Linked DNA regions of Homo sapiens. The protein of the gene in region 1 purifies or fractionates together with the protein of each later gene. This does not show direct contact. Each region holds a gene or a part of one and is shown in the gene's direction. Other genes may lie near its edges.

Evidence for each region.
Region 2: the proteins of GXYLT1 (region 1) and NGLY1 purify together in Homo sapiens (co-immunoprecipitation; 2 studies listed by BioGRID and IntAct, with this or other methods). This does not show direct contact.
Region 3: the proteins of GXYLT1 (region 1) and FKBP14 purify together in Homo sapiens (affinity purification with mass spectrometry; 2 studies listed by BioGRID and IntAct, with this or other methods). This does not show direct contact.
Region 4: the proteins of GXYLT1 (region 1) and P2RX2 purify together in Homo sapiens (affinity purification with mass spectrometry; 2 studies listed by BioGRID and IntAct, with this or other methods). This does not show direct contact.

Annotation. Positions count from the first base shown.
Region 1 is NC_000012.12:42,134,852-42,141,877, reverse strand, and holds part of GXYLT1 (glucoside xylosyltransferase 1), read left to right. Parts: intron 1-7,026. UniProt on the Homo sapiens protein: Glycosyltransferase which elongates the O-linked glucose attached to EGF-like repeats in the extracellular domain of Notch proteins by catalyzing the addition of xylose.
Region 2 is NC_000003.12:25,731,431-25,738,456, reverse strand, and holds part of NGLY1 (peptide-N(4)-(N-acetyl-beta-glucosaminyl)asparagine amidase), read left to right. Parts: intron 1-1,001; coding exon 1,002-1,123; intron 1,124-2,056; coding exon of another isoform or gene 2,057-2,148; intron 2,149-2,307; coding exon 2,308-2,453; intron 2,454-4,474; coding exon 4,475-4,585; intron 4,586-5,973; coding exon 5,974-6,138; intron 6,139-7,026. UniProt on the Homo sapiens protein: Specifically deglycosylates the denatured form of N-linked glycoproteins in the cytoplasm and assists their proteasome-mediated degradation. Cleaves the beta-aspartyl-glucosamine (GlcNAc) of the glycan and the amide side chain of Asn, converting Asn to Asp.
Region 3 is NC_000007.14:30,023,697-30,030,634, reverse strand, and holds the start of FKBP14 (peptidyl-prolyl cis-trans isomerase FKBP14 precursor), read left to right. Parts: upstream 1-3,932; 5' UTR 3,933-4,126; coding exon 4,127-4,323; exon of another isoform or gene 4,324-5,248; intron 5,249-6,938. Other genes in the region: PLEKHA8 (pleckstrin homology domain-containing family A member 8), read right to left, coding at 1,833-1,872. UniProt on the Homo sapiens protein: PPIase which accelerates the folding of proteins during protein synthesis. Has a preference for substrates containing 4-hydroxylproline modifications, including type III collagen. May also target type VI and type X collagens.
Region 4 is NC_000012.12:132,614,805-132,621,791, forward strand, and holds the start of P2RX2 (P2X purinoceptor 2), read left to right. Parts: upstream 1-3,971; 5' UTR 3,972-4,012; coding exon 4,013-4,185; intron 4,186-4,634; coding exon 4,635-4,770; intron 4,771-4,874; coding exon 4,875-4,946; intron 4,947-5,039; coding exon 5,040-5,115; intron 5,116-5,195; coding exon 5,196-5,292; intron 5,293-5,462; coding exon 5,463-5,543; intron 5,544-5,640; coding exon 5,641-5,779; coding exon of another isoform or gene 5,780-5,784; intron 5,785-6,196; coding exon 6,197-6,327; coding exon of another isoform or gene 6,328-6,450; coding exon 6,451-6,541; coding exon of another isoform or gene 6,542-6,560; intron 6,561-6,670; coding exon 6,671-6,736; coding exon of another isoform or gene 6,737-6,814; coding exon 6,815-6,987. UniProt on the Homo sapiens protein: ATP-gated nonselective transmembrane cation channel permeable to potassium, sodium and calcium.

The DNA of each region.
Region 1 (7,026 bases):
TCTTATCCGTTAGTGTATTCTGTTTGAAGCCATGATTTTAATAATCAGAAAATACATGGGTCTTGTAGTCAGATAAACCCGTGTTCTCAGTATTCTGGCTCTGGTTGCTGTGAGACTTTGCCTAAATTGTGTCACATGCCTGTGTTTTAATTTCCTCACCTGTAAAATGTAGATAATACTTAAATTTTTTTAGCTTTAGTAGGGTATAATTGATAAATAGAAACTATATGTTTAAGGCATAGAACTTGATAGTTTGACATACATATACATTGAGAAATGATCACAGTTAAGCTAGTTAATATCATCACTTCACATAGGGTTTTTTTTTTTGTGGTGAAAGCACTAAAGATCTACTGTCTTAGCACATTTTAGGTATACTGTACACTTTGTTAACTATAGTCATCAGGCTGTACATTAGATTACCTTACTTAATTTGTAATAGAATTCTTAGTTGTCTTTGATGAAAATTCAGTAAAACTATCTCAAGCAAAACATATTTATAGGCTTATACAGTTTTTGAAATGAAGGAAAAACTGCAGATAGCAGGGCAGCTCAAAGGACCTTAAGGACTGGGGAGTCTTTTCCAGTAAAGACAAAACTTTGTTCATGGGGTTTTTCTGTTCTTGCAGGTTTTATTCTCTAATCTCAAATACAAAATCCTAGGAAAAGGCTGTCATTGGACTTGCCTGGGTTGCATGCCCGTTTGTGGACCAGTCAGTGTTACTTGGGATGGGGAACTCTGATTTGTTGACTCTGTGTCACTTGCACATTCCTGTGGCAGACAGAATAACATGATTGGTGTTGGAGAGGAGCGGTGCCTCAAAGGAGAAGGAATGCTGGATAGGCAGTGGCTGTTCTAGAAGGAGATACTCAAGCTCTTCAGTGTGGACAGACTGTATTAAGGTGTTTGACAGAAAGCAGTAGTTATTACCGGACATCACTAATTCATACCACTTTGTTGCATTTTAGTTACTCAGGATGATTAAATTATCATATTTCACTGATGAGTCCTGACATTGATTATCAAAATTTTACCTGTGGCTATACAGCAGTATTGGTAGTGGGGAATCAAGAAATTACTAAATGTTTCAGTGATACCGTTTCTGGACCCATCAAGCCCTTGGAGTCTCCTTATGTGTCTCCTTGTCACACAGGGAGGTAATTATTTCACTTTCTTTTTTAGATCTGGTTAGGCCATAGAGTTGTCATTTCTGCTGGATCCTGGGAATACTAGTGTTATATACTGAGAACTTAAAGAATAGAAAGTAAGAGTTTTGGAGTGACAGACTTCAGCTTTGCCACTTACTGTGTTGACCTTGAACTTGTTTTCGTCATCAGAGAGAACAGTATGATATTGTTTGTGAGAATTGAAATTAAATATTAAATAGCTGATACAGAGTACCTAGTATGGTGCCTGACACAACAACATTTTAGCTAATATCATTTTGGTAATTTAAATTTTAAGTTGGGATTTTTTTTTTCTTCCAATTTCTGACCTCTGGGAAAAATTCTGGTCATTGGGCTCCAGTTAAGACCTGTTAAATCAAAATGCCCTGGCAGTGGGGTCCAGGAATTTATGTTTTAGATATGTGCTCCAGCTTGTTATAAAACCAAAAATTGAGAATAGTTTGGGCACTATTTTCACACTACTGTTTTTAGTGAAGTCCCCCCCCCCCCGCCTTTTTTTTTTTTTTTTTGAGATGGAGTCTTGCTCTGTCACTCAGGCTGCAGTGCAGTGGTGCGATCTCAGCTCACTGCAAGCTCCGCCTCCCGGGTTCATGCCATTCTCCTGCCTCAGCCTCCCAAGTAGCTGGGACTACAGGTGCCTGCCACCATGCCCAGCTAATTTTTTGTATTTTTAGTAGAGACGGCGTTTCACCATGTTAGCCAGGATGGTCTCCATCTCCTGACCTTATGATCCGCCCACCTCGGCTTCCCAAAGTGCTGGGATTACAGGCATTAGCCACCGTGCCCAGCCCTTTTCCCCCCTTTTTTCTGCAGTTATGTTTGAAGAAGAGAGTTGAGTCAGTGAACAGTAAAGAAAGTTGAATTACTTACTAAAGCCACTTTAATCTCTGCTTTGTTATTGCAAAAACATCTTACATAAAACCAGTGCCCTATACTTTGTATTTTAGGTCATTGAAGGATCATAGTGGTATCTACGTTACATATTTGTGAAGGGTTATCTTGGTTTCTTTGGGCTGCTATAACAAAATACCATCGACTAGAGAGCTTAGAAACTACAGAAATTTATTTCTTACAGTTCTGGAGACTAGAAATCCAAGTCAAGGTACCAGCAGATTCAGTGTCTGATGAGGACCCATTTCCTGGTTCATAGATGGCGCCTTCTCCCTGTGTTCTCACATGGTAGAAGAGGCGAGGCAGGCCCCTTTTATAAGGCCCCCCACTAATCCCATTCATGGGGGCTCTGCTCTCATGACCTAATCATCTACCAAAAGGCCCTACCTCCTAACATCATGTTAGTAATTAGATTTCAACATATGAATTTTGAGGGGACACATTCAGACCATAGCAAATTCTTAGTCCAAACCTGACACATATTAATAAATACTAGTAATTAATTAATTAAAATATTCTGTGCTTTTGGAGGAGAAAGTTACTTGGTTGATGAAAAAATAATATGTACTTTTGATTTAGAAATCTTTTTTTTTTTATTTCTGAGACAAGGTTTCACTCTGTTACCCAAGCTGGAGTACAGTGGCCTGAGATCATGGCTCACTGCAGCCTTGACCTTCTGGGCTCAAGTGATCCTCCCACCTTAGCTTCCCGAGTAGCTGTGACTACAGGCGTGCACACCACACCTGGCTTTTTTTTTTTTTGAGACAGAGTCTCGCTCCATTGCCCAGGCTGGAGTGCAGTGGCATGATCTTGGCTCAGTGCAACCTCCGCCTCCCGGGTTCAAGCAGTTCTCCTGCCTCAGCCTCACAAGTAGCTGGGATTACAGGTGTGTGCCAACTGCCCAGCTTTTTTTGTTTTTTTCTTTTTGTATTTTTTAGTAGAGACGGGGTTTCACCGTGTTGGCCAGCCTGGTTGGTCTTGAACTCCTGACCTCAGGTGATCCACCTGCCTCGGCCTCCCAAAGTGCAGGCATGAGCCACCATACCCTGCCTAGAAAATCTTATTTTAAAGCAGTAAGATCATTATCTATATGCCATACCTATTGGAAGTACTTCCCCTACGTATAAACTTAAATTTTGTTCATAATGTGTGTACTGTATGAGGTTTATGATTTTTGTTTTCAGATTGGCTACTTTTTACTTTATCGTGTTTACCTTTATTACGCATAGGAAAGCTTTCTACCAGTTTTTTTCCCCTCCCTTTTTTAGATTTAAATCAATCCAGCTTTGTGGGGGAGCTGGGGGCTGGTAGAGGAGGTATATTGTGTGATGCTAACTTATTCTTTGAAATGGGTAGATGATTGTTTCAGTGTCATTTATATATAAGCAGTCCTTTTCCTACTTGCCAAGGATTAATGAAATTAGAAATTTAAGAAAAAGAAGATCTTACTTAGAGCTAGAAGTTAAGTTGTCTAGAAATTATTTATTTGTTTGTTTGTTTATTTATTTATTTATTTGAGACGCAGTCTCTGTCACCCAGACGCAGTCTCTGTCACCCAGACTGGAGCGCAGTGGCACTCTCTCGGCTCACTACAGCCTCCACCTTCTGGGTTCAAGCGATTCTTCTGCCTCAGTCTCCTGAGTAGCTGGGACTACAGGCGCATGCCACCACACCTTGCTGATTTTTTATTTTTAGTAGAGATAGGGTTTCCCCATGTTTGCCAGGCTGGTCCCGAACTCCTGACCTCAGGTGATCTGCCTGCCTCAGACTCCCAAAGTGCTGAGATTACAGGCGTGAGCCACTGCGCCCGACTTGGAAACAATTTAGTTGAAAATTAAATAGTAGTGATTTGGCAGTATCATGGGAATGGCCTCCTTTAATGTGTCCGTAAGCATCTTTGCTTTTCTTGCACAGTCACAGGGAGGGTATACATGCCTTGAAGTTGCATTACTGCTTTGCAGCAGCACTTCATTCATACTGTCAAATATTTATGCTGAATATGCCTAAATTTATCACTGACTTTTTTTTTTTTTTTTCAATTTGAGATGGAGTCTCGCTCTGTCACTTAGGCTGGAGTGCAGTGGCATGATCTCGGCTCAAGGCAAGCTCCGCCTCCCGGGTTCACGCCATTCTCCTGCCTCAGCCTCCCAAGTAGCTGGGACTACAGGCGCCTGCCACCACGCCCAGATAATTTTTTGTATTTTTAGTAGAGACAGGGTTTCACCGCACCGTGTTAGCCAGGATGGTCTCGATCTCCTGACCTTGTGATCCGCTTTTTTTTTTTTTTTTTTTTTTGAAACAGATGCTCTGTCGCCCAGGCGGGAGTGCAATGACGCGATCTCAGCTCACTTTAACCTCTGCCTCCTGAGTTCAAGCGATTCTCCTGCCTTAGCCTCCCAAGTAGCTGGGAGTACAGGTGCATGCCACCAAGCCTGGCTAATTTTTTGTGTTTTTAGTAGAGACAGGGTTTCACTGTGTTAGCCAGGATGGTCTCGATCTCCTGACTTTGTGATCCTTCTGCCTCGGCCTCCCAAAGTGCTGGGATTACAGGCGTGAGCCACTGCGCCTGGCCTAATTTTTGTATTTTTAGTAGAGATGAGGTTTCACCATGTTGGTCAGGCTCATCTCGTATCACTGACTCTTTGGTAAGTTTTGCATAGTTTTCACTGAAGCCTCCTATCTTGGACATTTTGAAATGAAAATTACTTTTTCTAGTTTAACTTAAAAGTACAACCAGGCATGGTGGCTCGTACCTGTAATCCTAGCAGGGAGGCAAAGGTGGGTGGATTGCTTGAACCCAGAAGTTCTAGACCAGCCTTGGCAAAACACTCTCTCAACAACAACAAAAATACAAAAAATTACCTGGGCATAGTGGTGTGCGCCTGTGGTCCCAGCTACTCCAGAGGTTGAGGTGGGAGGATTGCTTGAGCCCAGGAGGTTGAGGCTGCAATGAACCGTGTTCGCACCACTGAACTCCAGCCTGGGCGACTTGTGTGTGTGTGTGTTTGTTTGTATGTATGTATGTATGTATGTATGTATGTATGTATAAAAAACCTCCTGTAATTGGTTTTAAGTAAACTTCAAGTTTGACAAATGTTATTATGCCGAGTGTTGTTTTATCACATGTAAATACATGTAACCACCCCCAAAATTAGGATTAGGATACAGAATTGTTTCATCACCGCAAAGGTACCTTGTGCTACCCCTTGGTCAGTTGTAGACAAGCTACCTAGAGCTAGATGCTTTATGCCTTATTAAACTTGAGGATGAGCCATAGTAACATTTTATTTCAGTTTGATCCACAGTGAAAAAGTTCCCTTTTAGGACTTCAGTGCTTTTGAATGTCAGTATGGGTATAGTGAAGACATACCCACCTAACTCATATTAATGCTTTGCCTCATTAAAATTATTTAATAGAGTTACCTCTTTGAATGTTGGATGTTTAATATTCTGCTTTCAACAGTTTTAAGCAACTAATAGCCAGAACCTGGATAACTACCTTTACTTTTCCAGTATTTTCAAACTTTAATTTTTCTTTTTGGCCTAAAAGTGCAAGTGCTGTCTTCAGATGAGTTGCTTTTGCTAATTTATCTTATTGCTTCTAATAAGCCACTGATATGTCATAAGTTCTCAGTGTGAGTTTCTACTCTTTATCTAAATCTCCCAAACCAGTTTTTCAAAATGGGAGAATAGATATTTGGGAGTTAAAAAACTATAAACAAATTACTTCATTCCTTACAGCAATACCTAAGTGTTTTATGATTTTTTAATGGTATGCAGCATATGTATTCACTAGTGCATGTGTTCTTATATTTCCAGTAAAGAAAGAAAAACATCTTTCCTATATACTATGTGTTTTTTGACATTGAATTATGATCAATAAATTTACCTATAACTTGATTTTTCCTATCCAATTTTGACTGCATTAAACCTTTGTGAAGTAAATCATTACCCCCCAAAGAAACCCTGTATCCAGTAACAGTAACTCCCACCTTGCACTCCTCAGTCCCCCAGTCATGAGCAACCACGAGTCTACTTTCTGTCTGCCTGTTTGGGGCATTTTACATAAAGGAATCACACAGTATGTGGCCTTTTGAATCTGGCTTTCTTTTTGGCATAATATTTCAAGGTTTATCCACTGTAGCGTGTATCACTATATTTCATTCCTTTTTATGGACAAATAATAGTCCATTGTATGGATATACCACATTTTGCTCATTATTTGGTGGACATTTGAGTTCTTTCATACTTTTTGGCTATTATGAATAATGCTGCTCTGAGCATTCATGGACAGTTTTTCTGTGAACATGTTTTCAGTTCTCTTGAGTATATACTGAGGAATTTAATTGGTGAGTCATGGTTGCACAACTCTGAATATACGAAAAACCATTGAATTACACACTTTAAAAGGGAATTATGCTTGTATTATTCTGCTTTGCTTTGTAACAACCCCATACATCTAAACAGTTTACAATAGCAAGCATTTATTTCTTGCACACATTACATGTCTATGGCTATGACTTTGCTTGATATATCTTCTCATCCTGGGATCCAAGCTAAAGGAGCAATCCATACATTGGATATGCCTGGTCTTGTGGTAGTGGATGAGCAAGAAGCCAGATTGAACAACACAGTCCCATTTGAAGCTTCTACTTTGATGCCACAGTATCATGTCTTTTTATATTATTTTGGCCAAAGCAAGTCACTTGAATAAGGTCAAAGTCAATAAATGATGCAGGGATATATGCCTCCCTTATCAGGCAGGCAAGGCCCATGGTAATGAATAGGGTTGTATAATCCTTTTACAGTTAAATGTGGGGAGTGAATAACTGAACAGTAATACAGTCTACTACACAAATAGAGATTGCCAGTTAAGGAGAAAGAAAGACTAATTGATGCAAGAAGGTCTTTAAGGACTCCTGAGAAGAAGATGGGCAACAAGGGGAA
Region 2 (7,026 bases), on another chromosome or scaffold:
CTCTATCAGTTCAAAACCCATCTCAACACAAAATGCAAAATTTAGTGTTCTTGAATTGTCTGGTAATTTTATAATTGGAGTAACTTCTGAAAAGAATGTTACAAATAGATCCCAAAAAACAACTTCCAAATTAGCAGGCACCTTTAAATACTTCAAAAGAGTAAAATTTTAATCAAAATGATTATTAGAAAGAAAGATAATATTTTAGATAAAATTGAATTAAACTAAGCTAAAATTTTTGTTGAGTAATTTGTTAAAGTTGTTTACCTTTTAAATACAGTGAGCTAGCTATACCACTTTAGTGCTAATGCTTTAGGCAAATTGCCTAGAGAATTTGCTTCTCCAAATCTTACATTATTCAAAACACAGATCAAATAAAAGCTCTCCTCACCAGCCACTTTCTGACCTGTTGTATTGTTTGATCACTAATCTGACCTGTTGTATTGTTTGATCACATTCTGCCATATATTTAAATTATTTGTGTTCATCCCTTTCCTCAGGATTGTGAACACCTTGAAAGCAGTACTACCGTTTAATTATTTTTCACCAAATGTTCTAACATTGTGCCTCATATATTCTAGATTTCTAAATAAATATTTAAAAACAAATTAAAGGCCGGGCGCAGTGGCTCACACCTGTAATCTCAGCACTTTGGGAGGCTGAGGCGGGCGAATCACGAGGTCAGGAGATCGAGACCATCCTGGCTAACATGGTGAAACCCCGTCTCTACTGAAAATACAAACAAAATTAGCCAGACCTGGTGGCATGCACCTGTAGTCACAGATACTCTGGAGGCTGAGGCAGGAGAATCACTTGAACCTGGGAGGCGGAGGTTGCAGTGAGCCGAGATTGCGCCACTGCACTCCAGCCTGGGTGACAGAGCAAGACTCCGTCTCAAAAAAAAAAAAAAAATTAAACATTTCTGTTTAGCATAGAGGTAATGTAAATTCTCTTAAAAATCTTGATTTTGATAATTAAGGTTTTTTTTCTTTTTAAACCAGATATAATAACCCTGAGAAACTTTTGGAAACAAGATGTGGACGGTGTGGCGAGTGGGCCAATTGTTTTACACTGTGCTGCCGAGCTGTAGGGTTTGAAGCTCGCTATGTTTGGGATTACACAGGTACAGAATGTGGAATGAGCAGAGGGTAGTAGGGCTTTGCAGGCTTGCAGGTTTGGGTTTACATTCTGAGCCCATGATTCTCTGTTACTTTTTGGCCTTGTCAGTCTGACCTTCCATTTGCCTTGTGTAAAACAGTAATAATACCAACCTTCCAGGTTTTTTGAAGGGATCACAAGAGTTTTGTAAAACACCTAGCACTGTGCCTGGTGCTTTGCACTATAAATATTCCTTTTTTTCCCCTTTATTTTTTTATTGATGCATAATAGATGTACATATTTGGGGGATACTTGTAATGCATTTATATAAATTCTACAGAGCAAATCAGTATTATTGGGATGTCTGAGATCTTAAATATTTGTCTTTATGCTGGAAACATTTGAATTACTCTCTTCTAGCTATTATGAAATATGCAGTGGATTATTGTAAACTGTAAACACCCTATTGATCTATCAAACACTAGGTCTTGTTTCTTTTATTAGCAATTTACCGTGGCATTTATAGTGATGCTGTTTATATATGGATAAAAACATGTAATAATGTACCATAGAAATCTTCATTGCTATAGGGATTACTGTAAAAAATTTAGTAAACTATAAACTTAAAGCACAGTATACAGAAATAATAAAAGTCATGTGATATTTGTGTTGTCCCTATTTAGAAATAACTTGTGTGGTCTACATGTTAAAAAGTTGTTTTCCTTGTGTTTCCATTTTCTAAAGAATTAAATGAAACCTTCCATTAATAGTTAGTGTTCTCTTAAAATCAAATATAAAGCATGTATTGACCAGAGATTCTATTAGACTTCCTGCTGGTTCTGGGCCTTAAAGTCCAGAGAGAGAGACTGTAGTTTCAAAAGTGGCATTAACTCCTTCATGATAGTAAACTCAGGATGATATTTTTTATGCTGCTCTTTAATATGTCTACCTTCTTAAGAGTTACAGCGCACATTAAGCCTAAAACTGACCACGTTAAAGGAGATTGGAAAAACATTTTTAAGGATTTCAAAGAGACAGAAATTAATACAGGTATTCTAAAATCCTGTGTGCCACAAAATGCACTTATTAACTGAAATTCAGAATATTATGCATTACTTTATGATTCTTAGGAGTTTGTGTATAGTTATTGAAAGTCATTCTGATTTCATTGTCTTTTTTCCATTGCTCTCTTTTCTCTTACTTGAGTAGACCATGTCTGGACAGAAGTCTATTCTCCTTCTCAGCAGCGGTGGCTGCACTGTGATGCATGTGAAGATGTCTGTGACAAGCCACTCCTTTATGAAATAGGATGGGGCAAGAAGCTTTCCTATGTCATAGCATTTTCAAAAGATGAGGTAGAGCATAAAAGAAAAAAACTTTTTTCCAAAAGTAAAATATATTTTTTTCTTTTATGACAGCTTCATGAATGTATAATTAACATACAATAACCTGCATATATTTAAATTGTACAGTTTGATAAGTTTTATTTGTATACACTGAAATCATCACTGCAAATCAGTATTCATTGTATGGATGTGCCATAGTTTACCATTTCACCTGTTGATGGCTATTTGGGTAGTTCCCAGTTTTTTTCACAATTTCAAATTAAGCTGCCATGAACACTCAGGCACACAAGTCTTTATATGGGCATATGCTGCCTTTTCTCTTTGCTTAATGCCTAGGAGTAGAATGGCTGCATTATATGGTAGATATACATACAACTTTTTAAGAAACCACTAAACTATTTTCCAACGTGGTTGTGCCATTTTACATTTTCGCAAGCAGTATGTAAGTTTCCAGTTTCTCCATGTCCTTGCTAACATTTAGTATGATCTGACTTTTTAATTTTATCCCCTTTAATAGGTGTGTAGTGGCATTTCATTATGGTTTTTATTTGTACTTCCCTAATGACAAATAATACTGAGCATCTTTTTATGTGTTTGCTTACCATCCATATGTCCCCTTTGCTTATTTTTTTTAATTGGGTATTGTGTTTTCTTACTGTTTGGTTTTGAGAGTTCTTTATATATTCTTATATAAGTCCATTATCAGATATGTGCTTTGCAAAGATTTTTCTCCCTATCTGTAGTTTGTCTTTTTATGCTCTTAATGATTTTTGAAGAGAAGAAACTGGCGTTCAGTTTACCAATTGGTTGTTTTATGGATTGTGCTTTTTGATGTTATATTTAAGAAATTTTGCCTAGCCCTTGGTCACAATGATTTTCTCCTATGTTTTGTTTTAGAAGTTTTTTTTGGTTTTATGCTTATGTCTGCAATCCATTTTGAGTTAATTTTTTTATATGATCCAAGGTGTATGAAGTTTTTTTTTACATATGGATAATGAATTGTTCTAGCACCATTTATTGAAAAGATTATTTTTTCTCCATTGAATTGTCTTTCCACTTGTATCAAAAATCAGTTCTGTAATATAAATCTAATACAATAAAAATGGATAAAATTTTTATTTGTTGAATTTTGTGGAATCAGCTTTGCAGATAAATTTTAAAAAGGTAATGTTTTGAAATTTTCACTTTTTTATCATAGCGTTTCTGGTTAAACTATCAACTGTTTAGGAATGAATAAGTGACGTATTCTCTTCCGTTTATTTTATAGGCTTTTACGTTTTATTTTATTTTATTTTAATTTTTCGAGACAGTCTCACCCTCTTGCCCAGGCTGGAGTGCAGTTGCATGATCCCAGCTCACTGCAACCTCTGCCTCCCAAGTTCAAGCGATTCTCCTGCCTCAGCCTCCTGAGTAACTGGGATTACAAGCACATGCCACCACACCTGGCTAATTTTTTTTGTTTGTTTTTTTTCAGTAGAGACGGGGTTTCACCATGTTGGCCAGGCTGGTCTCCAACTCCTGACCTCAGGTGATCTGCTCACCTCAGCCTCCCAAAGTGCTGAGATTACAGGCATGAGCCACTGCACCAGGCCCCATGACTTTTAAATTTTAAACAAAGGATAGTATTCTAAAAATTGCATTTAAGGCTGGGCGTGGTGGCTCATGCTTATAATCCCAGCACTTTGGGAGGCCAAGGTGGGTGGATCACCTGAGGTCAGGAGTTCGAGACCAGCCTAGCCAACATGGTGAAACCCCATCTCTACTTAAAACAATACAAAAATCAGCCAGGCGTGATGGTGCATGCCTATAGTCCCAGCTACTCAGGAGGCTGAGATACGAGAATCTCTTGACCCTGGGAAGTGAGACTGCAGTGAGCTGAGATCACGCCACTGCACTCTAGCCTGGACAACAGAGCGAGACTTCGTCTCCAAAAAAATGCATTTAAAAATTACATACATTCTAGGTATTTAGTAAGTAAAGGTTGATGGTTGTAATCTTGTTAAGTATTTGTATTCTGTTATTTGTTTCAGGTAGTTGATGTCACTTGGCGATATTCCTGCAAACATGAAGAGGTGATTGCCAGAAGAACTAAGGTTAAAGAAGCATTACTTCGAGACACTATTAATGGGCTTAATAAGCAGGTATGGTGTGGCTATCTTTTTTGAAAGAACAGTTGACATTTTTTATGTAATCGAGAATAGCCGTTTATTAGCCTATTGAAATTCTTAAAGTAGTAGCATTGTTTTATAAACAAGAATATTTTAATATTCTTTTTGAATATTAAAGAATAAAAATATTCTTTTTGTTCATTGAAAATTTTGCGGACTCATTTTAAATATTATGAGTTATTTTGGATTAAACTGTCTCATTTCAAAGTTCTTTGAAACAAAATTTCAGTATTGGTAGTACCTGACAAAAAATGTGTTGTCTTATTTATCAGTGTAACTGTGCCTTGGATATGACACAGACTCATATTTATGTATTATGTATGTACATACACACACACACACACACACACACACACACACACACACACACACACACACGTCCATGTGAGGAAATTTCTGAAGCAAGGCACAGGAAGTTATTAACAATGACTACTTCTGAGAGGAGGAACTGGAGTTCCAAGATGAAAGGTTCAATTTTTGTTTTATACCCCTTTGATAGTATTGAAATTTTTAACTCTATACATGTGGGTTTTTTTCATAAATTAAAAAATAAGCAGTGAATTTTGCTGTAGCAGGCAGTTAGAACAGGGCAGAGCACATTAATCCAATCAGTGATAATGATTCCAGGTGAGGTTTCAGTCTATTTTGAATCTGCACTTACTCCTGATGTGTAGCCCTTCGGAGATCTCTACCTGAAAACCTGGATTATTTGCTAGATCCCCTTGCATTAGAACACTCTGACCCTCAGTTTATTTTTACCCCAGCACTGTGATTCTGCTAAAAATTCTGCTTTGATTTCCAGCACTTTAGTCACTATTTTGTCCTTGGCTTCTCAGCCTCTTCTCATGCCACTTAATAATTGACAAATGACTGGAAGGGAAAAGAGGTGCAGTATGTGCCCTTCACCTCAATTCTTTTCTTCTCTTGGAATCTTGACTTCTCAAGTTCTGGCTGCCTTTACAGCTTTCTGTTGCACTCAAACAGGTGTTTATATGTGAGTGTTCTGTTTGTGTGTTTCCACTAGCTTTTCTAGCTTTTCTCAGTAAGACATTCTGACACAAGCCAGTCTATCATATCCAGAAACAGAAGTTGCTACCTTCATTATAAATAAATCTAGGACAGTAGAGCTCATGGAGAGTTGGAAATAGGTGTTAAATGATTTCCCAACATAAAATTTATAAAATTATTTAAGTTTTCCACAGTGTCCTTTTTATTTTCTGAATAATATATGTTTGAAAATAAAATTCAGTACTTGTTTCAAGACCTCTTAAAATGCAAGTGTTTTAAGTATATTCTTGCTTAGAGATGGACCTATACATTCCCCTAATCTTAACAACTTTTTTAAAAAACATGAATTACAGAGGCAACTGTTTTTGTCAGAAAACAGAAGGAAAGAACTTCTCCAGAGGATAATTGTGGAGCTTGTTGAATTTATATCTCCCAAAACCCCTAAACCTGGAGAACTTGGGGGAAGAATATCTGGGTCAGTGGCTTGGAGAGTAGCCCGAGGTGAAATGGGTCTACAGGTATTTAATTCATTCTAGCATGATGATCCTTTTACTTTCCTGCTTCATATACTATGCTCTTCCTATACTATCCTCCAACTGCATTGACTATGACCTTTCAGTTAACTTGAGAGTAATTATTTTAAAATGCAAACATTTGAAGAGAACCAGTAATTGATTTACATAGCATTATCGTGTAAGAGTTAGCAAAGCATTTTTAAAATGGGACTTAAAATTTTTTTTACCTTATGTAAATTTTTAGTGCAGTGTAACTTTTACTGAAGAATATACAGGAAAATGCACAAATTATAAATGTACAGCTTAATGAATGTTTACAAATTTAACACCCATGTAATCGCCAACCAGAATAAGAAATAGATCACTGGAACCGTAGAAACAAGCGTGAGTTTCTTTCCCCACTGCCTTACACCCTCGAAAGTAATCATTATTCTGGCTTCTAACATCATATATTAGTTTTGCCTGTTATTGTGCTTTATAAAATGGAATCATATAGCATGTACTGTTTTGTATATAGCTTGTTTTGTGTAACTTTGTGTCAGTGAGATACATGTTGCAACGTGTATGGTATGTTCTCATTGCTGTATAATTTATTGTATGAATGTAATTTTTCACTGTTGATGGCTATTTGGGTTATTTCTAGTTTTGGCTGATATAAATGGTGCTGCTCTGAACATTTATATTCACGTTTTCAGTGAATATGTTTAGGCATTTTGTTGGATGTATACCTAGGAGTGGAATTGCTAGGTAATAGAGTATGAGTATATTCAGCTTTAGTACATATTGCCAAACAGTTTTTCAAAATGGTTATGCCAGCTTATACTCTCACCAGCAGTATATGAAGTTTTTCGACATCTTTGTGTACACTTGGTATTGTCTATCTTTTCATTT
Region 3 (6,938 bases), on another chromosome or scaffold:
GGGCTAAGGGAACAAGCAGCATCACGTAGAGACAGCTGTCTCTGGCAATGGCTCCAGTGCCCTCTTCTTCAGGGTTTCCACCCTAGCACCACTCACAGCATTAACTTCTCTTACTTTGGGAAGAAAAAAGTAGACTCTTTTCCAACAGAACAGATAGGAATCAAATAACAAAGATTCCAAAAGATCCTTCTAGAGAGTTCTGCTTTATTGAAGGATACACAAGGACAGTCAGCAACAACAACAGCAAAAGCATTTCACTACCAGGAAATAGTTACTGTATCAAGAGACTAAACTTTCTATATAGAAAGGAGAAGGAAAAGAGGGGGAAAAAACCCCACAAAACAACAAAAAAAGTTGGGGATGGGGAAGAATGGGAAAAAAAGAAGAATGTTGAAGATGAATGAAAAAAAGTGTGTGTAATGGAAAGGAGTGAAGGATCAGGAACTAAATTTTACTCAAGTATATGCATCTGAGAGCTTAGAGAGACCTCAGAAGGAAAACTGCCAGGTCGAGCCTCCTCCCCTTAGGTTAGCAGTGTTGATCAGCCTCTGTCATCCACCAAACCAAAGCCTAGCTTTGAGTTATTCTCATCTAATCTAATTGCAGACATCACTGAAGGTCCTTGACGCAAACAAGAAAAACCTCTTCTCATTTAGTCTCTATTAATGATTACAGAAAAAAAATAAACAGGTGAACTCACTGCTAATTACACTAAGCAAAGGGAAGAGATTCTGGGTACGCCCAATAGGGGCACCTTTGGCTGTGCTGTGTGACCTCCTCGAAGTTACTATGTATGCCAACTGATCCTCCCACACACACCCATTCTTAAAACACCCGGCGCATTACCATACTACAACCTTTTAAAAACTATCCCACAAAAGAAAGAAAACGTCTCTCACCCACTCTAAGGGATACTGGGAACATTTCTGCTTTCAAACACACTGCCTTTAAAATTTTAAAGACCTAATTCATTTTCTGTGATAAAAAGTTTACTTCCAAAAAAGTGGCTAGCACAGTTTCCAGCATATAGTAGGCTTGTATTAAATACTAGTTGCACACATGACAAAAATGATCGTTCTGAATAATTTTCACAGCTGTAGAACAGTTACAACCTTCTCAAGATATGAAGCTTTTACCTCCACAAACTAGAAAAAAAGGGCGGGGACTATTTTAAAGCCAATCTGTAAGGCACGGCAAGAAAGTTGCAAATATTTGCATTCATTTAACGGTAATTTCTGAGTCTGTAAAACAAAAGGAAATGCTCAACGAGAAAATAAAAAACCTTGTGCAGAGCTTTGAAACTGTGGAGTTGGGACTCTTGACACCCTGGTGTGCACGCAGATGACTCTGAAGGTGACAAAGGGAAAGTGTTTGCACTGAGGACTTTGATAAAGGATCTTTCCGCTGTGGAATTCCAGGTTACTGCTGGCATTCTTTTGAAACCTTCCAACCTAGCTGCGAGCCAAGGGAGTACGGTTCCTTCGCCAAAATTCAAGAGATTCCCAGAGAACCCCACGGCGGGGCGTCTGCGCCTTCCTCCCGCTGACATCAAGAGCACCGTGCCTTTCAAGTCACCCAAAATCTCAGTCTTTGTAGCCTTCCTTGAAGCGAAAGGGCAGCCACAGCTCTTAACCAACCCCAAGAGAGGGCCGTGTCGTCCTGCACGGCGACACGGTCCCGTGAGAGAACTGCTTTGGGAAATACTCCCGCTCCGCGCTGGCCTCAGGAAAGGGCCGTGACCCCCTCCCTAAGACGGGTCCAGACACCGCCCTCCAGCCGCGCAGACAAAGGACCGGCCCCCGGCGCGCCCCCGGCCCGGCACGGCCACTCACCGCTCAGATAGTTGGTCCACTTGTACAGCACCCCCTCCATGGCGCCCGCGGCCACTCGGCCCACGCCCGCCGGCCCCCTCACTGCCCCAGGCCCCAAGAGGCGAGGAGCACCAGCAGCAGGGCCATCGCCTGGCGCTGCCCAGACGCCCACTCCCGGCGCCCGGGCCCGGTGTGGGGACGCCCGGCCCGCCTCACATCCTCGGCCCGGGGGCGGGGTCACTGCGGCGGCCTCGGCGCTTGAAGCCCAGCCAGCCGGTGAACCCGTGGGGCGAAGCCGGCACGCTGTTCACAAGGAGGCCCGGGTCCGGGCCCTACGTGGGTCGGAGGGGCAGCCGAAGCCTCCAAAGTGCGGCGAACGAGCTGCCGGTCGCAGGCGGCGCCACGGCGCACCACCTGAACCCTCGACTCGCCGGGCCCGGGACGCGCTCGCGCATGCCCAGGGCGCCGCTCGCGCGCCCCTTCCCAAAATCCACTCCGGGATTTCGCGGCAGCGGCGGCGGGGCGGAGTTTGCGGGAACGGCCCGCAGGGAAATTGAGTCCCGAGACGCGGACTGCGGACTAGGCGACGGGAGGAGGGAGGCCCCTGAGACAAGTGTGGAGCGCAGTTCTGACTGTAAATGGTGCCCGCCGTTTGAGGGTCTACGTGACCTCTCACGATACCTCCTGAGTTCTAGTCCCTATTCTTGTTCCAAAGCTGCCTAATTGATCTCACACACTTGAGGTAACCAATAACAGGGCGTAAAGAGATTATTGGAATTTCAGGGTAGAATACTATGAGGCCAGTGTAAACAGATGTTGTCCAGACTCTAAGGTCTCACTATGGAAGTGTTGATCTACTGACCCGGAGCACTGACATCACCTAAGAGCTTGTTAGAAATGCAGAATCTTGCACCCACCCCAGACCTCCAGATCAAAATCTGCATTTTAAACAAGATCTTCAGGGGGATTCCTATGCACATAGAGTGCGGATATGCACTGTGTTAAGGTTATTAGACCAGAAAAAATGTTAACTACAGATTAAGTGGAAAGAGGAGGTGAGAAAAGACTACAATACGATTTAAATCGCTTTAAGTATATGTCACAGAAGCATGCACCAAAATATTAAGAGGATTGTTTGCGGCTGGTGGTGGTATCGGCGAGCTTTCTTTTTCTTTAAAGTTGCCTGATTTAGTAAATAAAAATGCAAAACCATTATTCGTTATGTATCTGAAATTCCAACTTGATTCGACTCCCCAATATTATCTGGAAATCTTACTTTAGTGCTTTCCAATTTCTTCCAAAATGACTTCAATGAACATGCATTACTTTTGAACTTAGGCAAAAAATGTAAAACTAGAAAATGTAAACTACGATGAGGCTGTGTAATTCGTAACCATGATTACCATTTCTTCTTTAAAGCGGAAGTCTGCAAGTCGAAACTCATTATTTACCCTGTAAGGTAACTTAAGGGATAAATTATTAGCAGCCATAACATGACGTGGTGCTGTGGAATGAATCAGACCTGGTTTGAAGGCAGAGCTCATTTGCTTCGGGGCCAAACAACCTTAAGCAGGACAGTTAATATCTCCTGGTGTAAATTTACTTCTCTTTTAAATGGGAAAAAAGAACCTGCCTTACTGGGTGTAGTGAGGTTCATGCAACGGGAACGCGCTTTGTGAACCCTCAAGCAGTATGTCAGTCTTTACAGTTTATAAGCAATAGCAAAATCCTAGGATTGTGGCATCTTGGGGGGCCGCTCTCCAACGGCGAGAGTAAACGAGTCTTTCCTGGAACCCCGAAGATTTCATAGGGCCCCGGGACTCTTCCTACGTCTCTCAGCAGGGTTCTTCACAGAGATAAATCAGCCGGAGGAGTTTCCGGTTGGCTCTGCGCCCCGCCCCTCTCCCAAAATCCACGCTGGTTGAATGCTGAAATCCACCGGGCTCTAGGACCACAAGGGATGATCCGCCGCTTGGCAGCTGCCCGGCTCTACCGGGCTGTAAATTCCATCGTTGCAGCGTCATTGGCTTGAGAGCTGCCTGAAGGACAGCACCAATAGCCAATGGGAGGCTGCTATTCCCAGGCGGCCGCGTTATAAGAGCCAGTCAGGCCGGCATTTGGGCTTAACTCTTTAAAGGTAGGTTCGTGACCCTTGAGAAAAGAGTTGGTGGTAAATGTGCCACGTCTTCTAAGAAGGGGGAGTCCTGAACTTGTCTGAAGCCCTTGTCCGTAAGCCTTGAACTACGTTCTTAAATCTATGAAGTCGAGGGACCTTTCGCTGCTTTTGTAGGGACTTCTTTCCTTGCTTCAGCAACATGAGGCTTTTCTTGTGGAACGCGGTCTTGACTCTGTTCGTCACTTCTTTGATTGGGGCTTTGATCCCTGAACCAGAAGTGAAAATTGAAGTTCTCCAGAAGCCATTCATCTGCCATCGCAAGACCAAAGGAGGGGATTTGATGTTGGTCCACTATGAAGGCTACTTAGAAAAGGACGGCTCCTTATTTCACTCCACGTAAGTAATTATGCCCCGCAGGTAAAATAGTAATTAAGAATCCACTCACTTATGCCAGCTCTCCAGCAGGAAAGGTGGCCTGTACCTGGTTTTGCCTCTTTTACAAAACCGAAATATCTTATTTCCTTCTTTGGGAAAGGAAATTGTTTAAAGCCAGTTTTATATAGCGAGCGAGGCCTTTGAAGGTCTTGTTGGAAACATGTGGTCTGGAAAAGGCTGTTAATTTTTTTTATTATACAAATTAGAACTAGAATCTTTGAAATATTGCAGAAATATATCTGGGTGTATAATTGGCCAATAAGTAGAAAAAGCCCAAAAGAATTCTCATATCTCAAACTCCATTTCTTAAAGAAAATGACTTGATTCCATTTTTAATGTGGTGTAGGTGATGTTCACCTAAAACTTTTCACAGCGACTTCAAAAGCAAACTACACTATCACTTATTTGCCTGTTGAAGGATATACTAATGCCGTTTCACTGACCTACTTCTTTTGTTCTGACGAATGGTATTTTGGTCAAGGCACAGGACCATGATTTCAGTCATTTGCTTCTTTCTAGAGAGTCAGACTTCATTGATGAGGTGGGTGTGGTTTTGGAAGTCTAGGTGAAGGATTTTCAGGTGGTTACACTATCATTTCTGTTCTATAAACGAAGAAATTGGAACATGGAAATGGTTTACAGCCTAATGATTTTCAATTAGGCATCGGTTCCATTCATTCCATTATGACAGTATTTAGTGAGCATTTCCTTGATGTTAAGCCATGTTCTGGGTGCTAGGAAGATTCAGAAATTTTGGCTTCTAATCATCTTCATCTATTCATTAGTCTGTCCATCTATCAAACTCTTATTGAATGGTCACAAGTCAGGTCCTGGAGACGCAAAGATGGCTAGAAGCAGGTTCTTGTCCTCTAACAGTATACACCATCTACAGGTGGGAGAAAGACAAGTAAATAATGCAATGATATAGGGTACAGAATATTCAAAGTGCTAGCAAAGCGTAACTGGGCCTGAAGTAGTTAGGCTCCATGGGGTGGGGAAAGGGAAAGACTTCCCAGAGACCATAATTGAAATGAACCTTGGAAGATGGGTGGAGGTTTCCAGGGGGAAAGTAGGGAAGGATGTTGTAGGTAGAGGGAATAACATGAATTAAAACAGTAAATCTTCATAGCCCATCCTCCACCTGATTTTCTAATAAACTGCCTTTACTGGGCATTCAGACCTGGTCTGTCTTGAGGGTTGGGGAAATGAATGGGGCTCTTCTCTAAACTGTTAGCCCTGGGAAAAAGTTCCAGAAAAATGGCTTGCCTTAGAATTCTCAACAGCCCTTTCTTCTTGTCAACTAGGTGAGTGCCACGGTGGATATTAAATGATGTGATTTGCATTTTGAAAATTCAGTTATATTGTTATTTTTAGTCTGATCTCTTTTAGACTCAGCCTGACTTCTTTCAGATTTCTGAACCAAAAACCTGTGCTGACTTTGGTGGTAGCCATGGAATATTATTTAGCAGTTTGCTACTAAGTTCTAATACCTGATGAGGGGACTGTTATCATGCAGCCTCCATGTAAATGGTCAGAAGCTGCTAACTGTAAACTTCATGAAGAAATACCATCAAATTGGCTGGGCGTGGTGGCTCACGCCTGTAATCCCAGCACTTTGGGAGGCCGAGGCAGGCAGATCGCGAGGTCAGGAGTTTGAGACCATCCTGGCCAACATGGTGAAACCCCGTCTCTACTAAAAATACAAAAGTTATCTGGGCGTGGTGGGCACCTGTAATCCCAGCTACTCAGGAGGCTGAGGCAGGAGAATCGCTTGAACCCAGGAGGCGGAGGCTGCAGTGAGCCAAGATTGCGCCGCTGCACTCCAGCCTGGGCAACAGAGCGAGACTCCGCTCTGAAGAAAAAGAAATACCATCAAATGATCAGTTTGTAAGCACGTTTGCCATCTCTAGAACCATAGCCTATGGGATAAATTGCTTAGCCCTAAGAAGAACTGTGCTAAAATTGTAGTCAGTGATGAGTAGTAGAATGTTTCCTGCTTCTTTTTTCATTTCTAGCCTTCCCAAATTTTCTACAGTTGGCATTTTGTTACTTTGATCATTGGGCAAAATTACAGGAAAAAATGGCATTACCCAGATTTAGTAACCATGGTACTCATGAAGCGTAGTACAGTGACTTCTTTTTCTCACCTACAAGATATCCTTGAATAGAATATTTTCCTTATTGCACTGAAAGGGAGCTAGGTAGGGATCAGGCATTACTCAGCCCTTAAGCCTCCCTGTATGTAGTTCGGCAGGTTGGTTTTCCTAGGCTAGACTCTCTTCAACTCATGAGCCAGGACATTCTATTTCCCTCGTCCCCAGTTGATAGGGTTCCGCTATGGCCCCACCCAATTCTCATCTTAAATTGTAGCTACCATAATCCCCACATGTTGTGGAAGGGACCTGGTGGGAGGTAATCGAATCATGAGGGCAGGTTTTTCCCATGCTGTTCTCCTTGTGATAGTAAATAAGTCTCACGAGATCTGATGGTTTTATAAAAGGCAGCTCCTCTGCACACTCATTCTTGCCTGCTACCATGTAAGACGTGCCTTTGCTCCTCCTTTGCCTTCCGCCATG
Region 4 (6,987 bases), about 90 Mb from region 1:
CACAACCAGCACCTCACCACCACCAAGAATTCTAATGGAAACTTTCTTCAGTGAAAACTAACTTCATTTATTTCAAGGCTGGTGCTAATTTTGGTTGTTGACTGCTTTGGCCTCCGATTATGGGAGGTATCCTGGGTGGGAACTGTCAGGGGAAGCTACTTGGAAGGCAGGACTGAGCCGGACCAAATTGCAAGATTCAAACCAGTGAGGAGGCCCAACAGCGGATTCTCCACAGACCCAGCAGAAGCTCTCGGGGGCTGGAAAAGGGCGCCACCTGGTGGCATCTGAGCAGAAGTCAGTGACACGTTTTCACCCACATGTCAGTACAGCTCCCGAAGCAGGTCCAGCGGAAAAGCTCCGGTATGAAGCTTTTCCCTTTACAGTGTGCTGTGAGGGTGTGTAACCACAGTTAATGGAAAGGGACCTCACTGGACTCAATCCAGTGACATCACACATGCCGTGTCTCCCACCCACAGAGAGAACTCCCAGGTCTTGAGTATGTGATGCCTGGAGCCTCATCTACCTTCTGAAGGCATCGTTCAGGCACGCTTTACATATGAGCAGTGTTTGGATTATTAATTGGAAAGGTCAGAACACCGTTTCAGCGGGTATATGAAAGTGATAGCAGCGGTGTCTGGAACATAAAGGAGAGTGTGTTTGTCCACTCTTCCTAGGGACACAGGGACGGGGACACTCCCCACTCTCCCCTGGGACACGGGAATGCTCTCCACTCTCCCCTGGGACACAGGGACGGGAACACTCTTCCCTGGGACACATGGGGACGCTCCCCACTCTCCCCCGGGACACAGGGGGACACTGTCCACTCTCCCCTGGGACACACGGGGACACTGTCCATTCTCTCCCGGGACACACGGGGACGCTCTCCACTCTTCCCTGGGACACACGGGGATACTCTCCCCTGGGACATATGGGCTGTCCACTCTCCCCCGGGACACACGGGGACGCTCTCTAGTCTTCCCTGGGACACACGAGGACTCTCTCCACTCTTCCCTGGGACACATGGGGACACTCTCCAGTCTCCCCTGGGACACATGGGGACGCTCTCCACTCTCCCCTGGGAGTTCCAGAGTGACCGTCATCGTGAAAAATGACAGGGATTGATGTAGTTTCCTGGCTTTTGACATTAACCCACAAACCCAACTACCACTCTGGGTTTTTCCTAGAGCGTAAGCCTTAGCTGACGCCATCCACACATTATGGTGCTGTGGATTTTCCTGTAATGAAAAGGAAAAGATTCAGACAGCAGGAAATAAGGGGCCAGGGGGAGGCTAAGGCTGTCATGATGGCAGAGAAGTCTCAACCCATGATCTTGGAAAAGCTGTCCACATTTAGGATCCCGTCTGCTTCTGGGGAAAACTTCCCTGGTTAGCTTCACCTTAAGGTCTCCGAAAGGTGTACGGTTCCAAGAATCTGGAGGGGTCTTTTTGAGTTTGGGGTTAGCCGATTTTTCTAAAATGTGCACAAGTTCTGGGTCCATAGTTCTTACACACATAATTAGCAAACGTCCCAGAAGGCGGCACGCAGACTCCTTGGATTCAGACAAACCCAAGCCAAAAGGGACCTACTCAAGGCCTCTAACTGGATACAATAGAGTTAAGTTTTGGATCCAATTCAATCCTGGACCCATTCCGGTCTAAGAATTGCTCAAGGCCGGGCGCCGTGGCTCATGCCTGTAATCCCAGCACTTTGGGAGGCCAAGGCAGGTGGATTGCCTGAGCTCAGGAGTTTGAGACCAGCCCAGGCAACACAGTGAAACCCCGTCTCCACTAAAATACAAAAAAATTAGCCGGGCGCGGTGGCATGTGCCTGTAATCCCAGCTACTTGGGAGGCTGAGACAGGATAATTGCTTGAATCTGGGAGGCGGAGGTTGCAGTGAGCTGAGATCACGCCACCGCACTCCAGCCTGGGCAACAGAGTGAGACTCCATCTCAAAAAAAAAAAGAATTGCTCAAAGTAGAGGGCTCAAAACACATGGTCATAGAGCACAAATCCAGCAGAGAGAACTCACCTATGACTCTAGATGCTTTGAGAGATCAGCAGGCACACAGGCCCTACTGAGCATTCAGTGCTCCTAGGGGGTGGCTGGAGGTCTACTTCAGATCCCACTTCTGACACCAAACTGTTAAAACAAAAACTTTGGACAAATTAAATTTAAGAGTTTGTGTGTGTGTGTGTGTGTGTGTGTGTGTGTGTGTGTGTGTGTGACAGAGTCTCCCTCTGTCATGCAGGCTGGAGTGCAGTGGTGCAATCTCAGTTCACTGCAACCTCCACCTCCCAGATTCCAGTGATTCTCCTGCCTCAGCCTCCCGAGTAGCTGAGATTACAGATGCCACAACACCTGGCTAACTTTTGTGTTTTTAGTGGAGACGAGGTTTCGCCATGTTGGCCAGGCTGGTCTCGAACCCCTGATCTCAAGTGATCCACCCATGTTGGCCTCCCAAAGTGCTGGGATTACAGGTATGAGCCACTGTGCCCAGCCAACAGAGTTTAATTGAGCAAAACACAACTCATGAATTGGGCAGCACTCAGAACCAATGGGGGAGGTTCGAGAGCTCCACTCTGTAATGTGGGCAGGAAGTTTTTATAGATAGAACACAGAAGTGAGATACAAAAAAAAAAAAATCACAATTAGCTTGATTTTGTTACTGCTTGAAATGTTTGCCTTATATGGCATGATCAGATCAGTTAGCAGCCTGTGACTGGCTGAGACCCAGCTATTTGTTCCAAAATATACTCATAGGTTAAGCTTTTAGCTTGTTTCTGTGGTACATTAGGTTGCAGTTTGTTGTTACCTAGAAACTCAAGGCACAGAGGCAGCCTGTTAATTGAGTTAATTTAACAGTTCAAACAAATACTTATGCACCAGTGTTTATAACAGCACTATTCACAGAGTTAGTTTGAAAGCAATCTAAATTCCTTCTTTGGATAGCCTAGACATTTCTCCTGGCCATAAGAAGGGGTGATGCCCTGACACATGCTACAATGTGGATGAACCTTGAAAACATGCTCAGTGAATGAAGCCAGACAGAAAAGGCATTAACCCAGAAACAAATATTGCATTTCCTTGATATGAAATATCCAGAACAGGCAAGTCCATTCACTGAGACAGAAAAGCGACCAGTGGTTGCCAGGGCATGGGAGGAGTGTGGAACGGGTCGTGACTGCTTAATGGATGGGAGTTTTATTTTGGGGTGGGGAAAGTGTTTGGGGACGAAACAGAGGCGGTGGTGGTTGCACAATGTTGTGAATGTCACTGAATTGTTTACTTTAAAATAGTTAATTACATGCTATGCTGATTTTATCATAATAAACTATTTTAAAATTATTTTGTGAAAAACTGTGATGCTTGGGATTTGCTTCAAAATAATGTGGGTGGGGTGGAGGTTCGAAAAGTTACCAAAAAAAAAAAAAAAGAAAGAAAGAAAGAAAGAAAACTCTGGCTTGCAAAGAAGAAAACGGATCGGCCGTGGATCCCTCTCCAGCTCGAGGGCTGGAGCTGCGGCGGAGGCAGGAGCTGGAAGCGAGGCGTCTGCTGGCAAAGGCGGGAGTGCAGGTTGCGCTCGAAGCCCCGGCAGCCGCGGCAGGAACCGGCCTGGACGGGGTGGGGGGCGCCGCGGAGGCCGGCGGGACTTCCCATGTCTTTCTCCTCGAGCTCGGAAAAAGTTCCCACCCGGGGAATCCCGACCCTCCAACTTCGAGACCGCCGGTTCCGCGCTCGGCCCCCACCTGGACCAAGAGCTGGGGCTGGGCTGCCGCGCCCCCGGCTCTGTCCCCGCGAGGCCCCGCTCCCAGCCCCACCTGGGACACCCGGGACTCCCGGGACACCTGCGGGGCGGGGCGGGGCCGGGGCGAGGCGGGGCGGGCTCGAGGCCGCACCCCGGAGGCGGAGCCGCGAGCTACCCGCCCGCCGCGCGCCCCCCGCTCTCGGTGCGCAGCGGGGCCGACCCTCAGCCCTGCAGCGCCTTCCTGGAGGTGGGGGCCGCCCGCGCCATGGCCGCCGCCCAGCCCAAGTACCCCGCCGGGGCGACCGCCCGGCGCCTGGCCCGGGGCTGCTGGTCCGCCCTCTGGGACTACGAGACGCCCAAGGTGATCGTGGTGAGGAACCGGCGCCTGGGGGTCCTGTACCGCGCCGTGCAGCTGCTCATCCTGCTCTACTTCGTGTGGTGCGCGGGGCGCGGGGTGCGGGGCGCGGGGTGCGGGGCGCAGGGGAGGGGCTGGGATTGGGGGCGCTGGGCTGGAGGCGCGGGGCTGGGGCTGGGGCTGGGACCGGGGGCGCGGGGCAGGGGCTGGGGCTGGGACCGGGGGCGCGGGGCAGGGGCTGGGATTGGGGGCGCGGGGCAGGGGCTGGGACTGGGGGCGTGGGGCAGGGGCTGGGACTCGGGGTGCTGGGCTGGAGGCGCGGGGCTGGGGCTGGGACCAGGGGCGCGGGGCAGGGGCTGGGGCTGGGACCGGGGGCGCGGGGCAGGGGCTGGGGCTGGGACCGAGGGCGCGGGGCAGGCCCCAAGAGCCCCGCAGAGCGGACCCGGGTCGCGGGAGGGCCCCTGCCGTGCCTGCGGGCGGGACTCAGCCTTCCCAGGGTCGCCTCCGGAGCCGGCGCCGCCCCTGCCCGCAGGTACGTATTCATCGTGCAGAAAAGCTACCAGGAGAGCGAGACGGGCCCCGAGAGCTCCATCATCACCAAGGTCAAGGGGATCACCACGTCCGAGCACAAAGTGTGGGACGTGGAGGAGTACGTGAAGCCCCCCGAGGTGCGGGCCGCCCCCTGCCCCCCGCCCCGCCGTGCACCCTACCCTAGTGGGCGGAGGGGGCAGCGGCTGCCGCCTGGCCGACCGCCCCCTCTTTCTGAGCCCAGGGGGGCAGCGTGTTCAGCATCATCACCAGGGTCGAGGCCACCCACTCCCAGACCCAGGGAACCTGCCCCGAGGTGAGGGGATCCCGCGGCGCTGGGGGACCCCGCCTCAGCTAGGCGGGCCAGCTGTCCCTTGCGGGGTCCCTGACTGGGCCGCCTCCACCCTAGAGCATAAGGGTCCACAACGCCACCTGCCTCTCCGACGCCGACTGCGTGGCTGGGGAGCTGGACATGCTGGGAAACGGTCGGTGTGCGCCAGCTGGGGCTGGGCGGGTGGGGCAGGGCTGCGTCCCCGCTAATGCCTCAGTGACCTCTGCCTCCCAGGCCTGAGGACTGGGCGCTGTGTGCCCTATTACCAGGGGCCCTCCAAGACCTGCGAGGTGTTCGGCTGGTGCCCGGTGGAAGATGGGGCCTCTGTCAGGTGCACCTGCGCCCCGGCCTGGGGCCCAGCCTCCCCTCTGATCCTTTTCCCCTGACCAGAGGCCAAACGGGCGGGGCAGGAGTGACAAGATCTGGGGAGGGGTGGGGGCCAATGCCAGGCGGGGGCTTTGCGGGAAGAGGGGACTAAACAACCCTTCTGTGCCTCCTCAGCCAATTTCTGGGTACGATGGCCCCAAATTTCACCATCCTCATCAAGAACAGCATCCACTACCCCAAATTCCACTTCTCCAAGTAAGAGCCGCGGGGTGTGGTGACGGCCCAGCCTGAGGGCTGCCTTCTGGGAATGGGGTATTTGGGGTGCAGGTCTCGCCTCCTGCCGCCTCCTCAGGGGCAACATCGCCGACCGCACAGACGGGTACCTGAAGCGCTGCACGTTCCACGAGGCCTCCGACCTCTACTGCCCCATCTTCAAGCTGGGCTTTATCGTGGAGAAGGCTGGGGAGAGCTTCACAGAGCTCGCACACAAGGCAGGGCAAGCGCAGGCAGGGTGGGGCCAGGGTGGGCTCCCACCTGCACAGAGAGGGCCTGGGGTACAGGGGACCAGTCCCTCCTCCCTCCTGACCAGCTGGCCCCGCTCAGGCAGAGGAAAAGAAATGCGATCAGCGCAACCCATCCGGTGTGGCGCTTGCTGAATTATTGACACTGGCCATGGGGCTGGCTGCTGGCACCCCTTGTGCCTCAGACACTGGACGCCCACCAGTACCCCTGAGCTGCCCCATGGGCCCCTCAGTGCACACCTCACATGCAGCCTGGGACTGACCCGGGCTCTCGAGGGGCCTCTCGTGTGCCCTTGTGACCCCCTTCCCTGGCCTGGGACTGACCCGGGCTCTCGAGGGGCCTCTCGTGTGCCCTCCTGACCCCCTTCTCTGGCTCCTTCTTGGCAGGGTGGTGTCATCGGGGTCATTATCAACTGGGACTGTGACCTGGACCTGCCTGCATCGGAGTGCAACCCCAAGTACTCCTTCCGGAGGCTTGACCCCAAGCACGTGCCTGCCTCGTCAGGCTACAACTTCAGGTGCTGTACTTGGGACACCGCTGTCCACACTGGCATAGCTGTGGTGGGGTCCCGAGAGGCCCAATGCCTGTGGGGCAGCCCTGGAGTGCAGAGGACGAGTGGGCACTGGCGTTCCCATTGCAGGTTTGCCAAATACTACAAGATCAATGGCACCACCACCCGCACGCTCATCAAGGCCTACGGGATCCGCATTGACGTCATTGTGCATGGACAGGTGCCTGCACCTGCTGGGGGTGGGTGGCCAGCCCTGCTAGCCTGGGTCTGAGCTCCTCACGCCCCACCCCTCCCTTAAGCCCCATCAGACGCCGTCAGACATTCTGACCACGACCCCCATTCTCCCCAGGCCGGGAAGTTCAGCCTGATTCCCACCATTATTAATCTGGCCACAGCTCTGACTTCCGTCGGGGTGGTAAGGAACCCTCTCTGGGGTCCCAGCGGGTGCGGGGGGTCCACCAGGCCCTTACACACCGGTCTCTGCTGGCCCCAGGGCTCCTTCCTGTGCGACTGGATCTTGCTAACATTCATGAACAAAAACAAGGTCTACAGCCATAAGAAATTTGACAAGGTGTGTACGCCGAGCCACCCCTCAGGTAGCTGGCCTGTGACCCTTGCCCGTGTATTGGGCCAGGCCCCTCCCGAACCCGGCCACCGCTCCGAGGA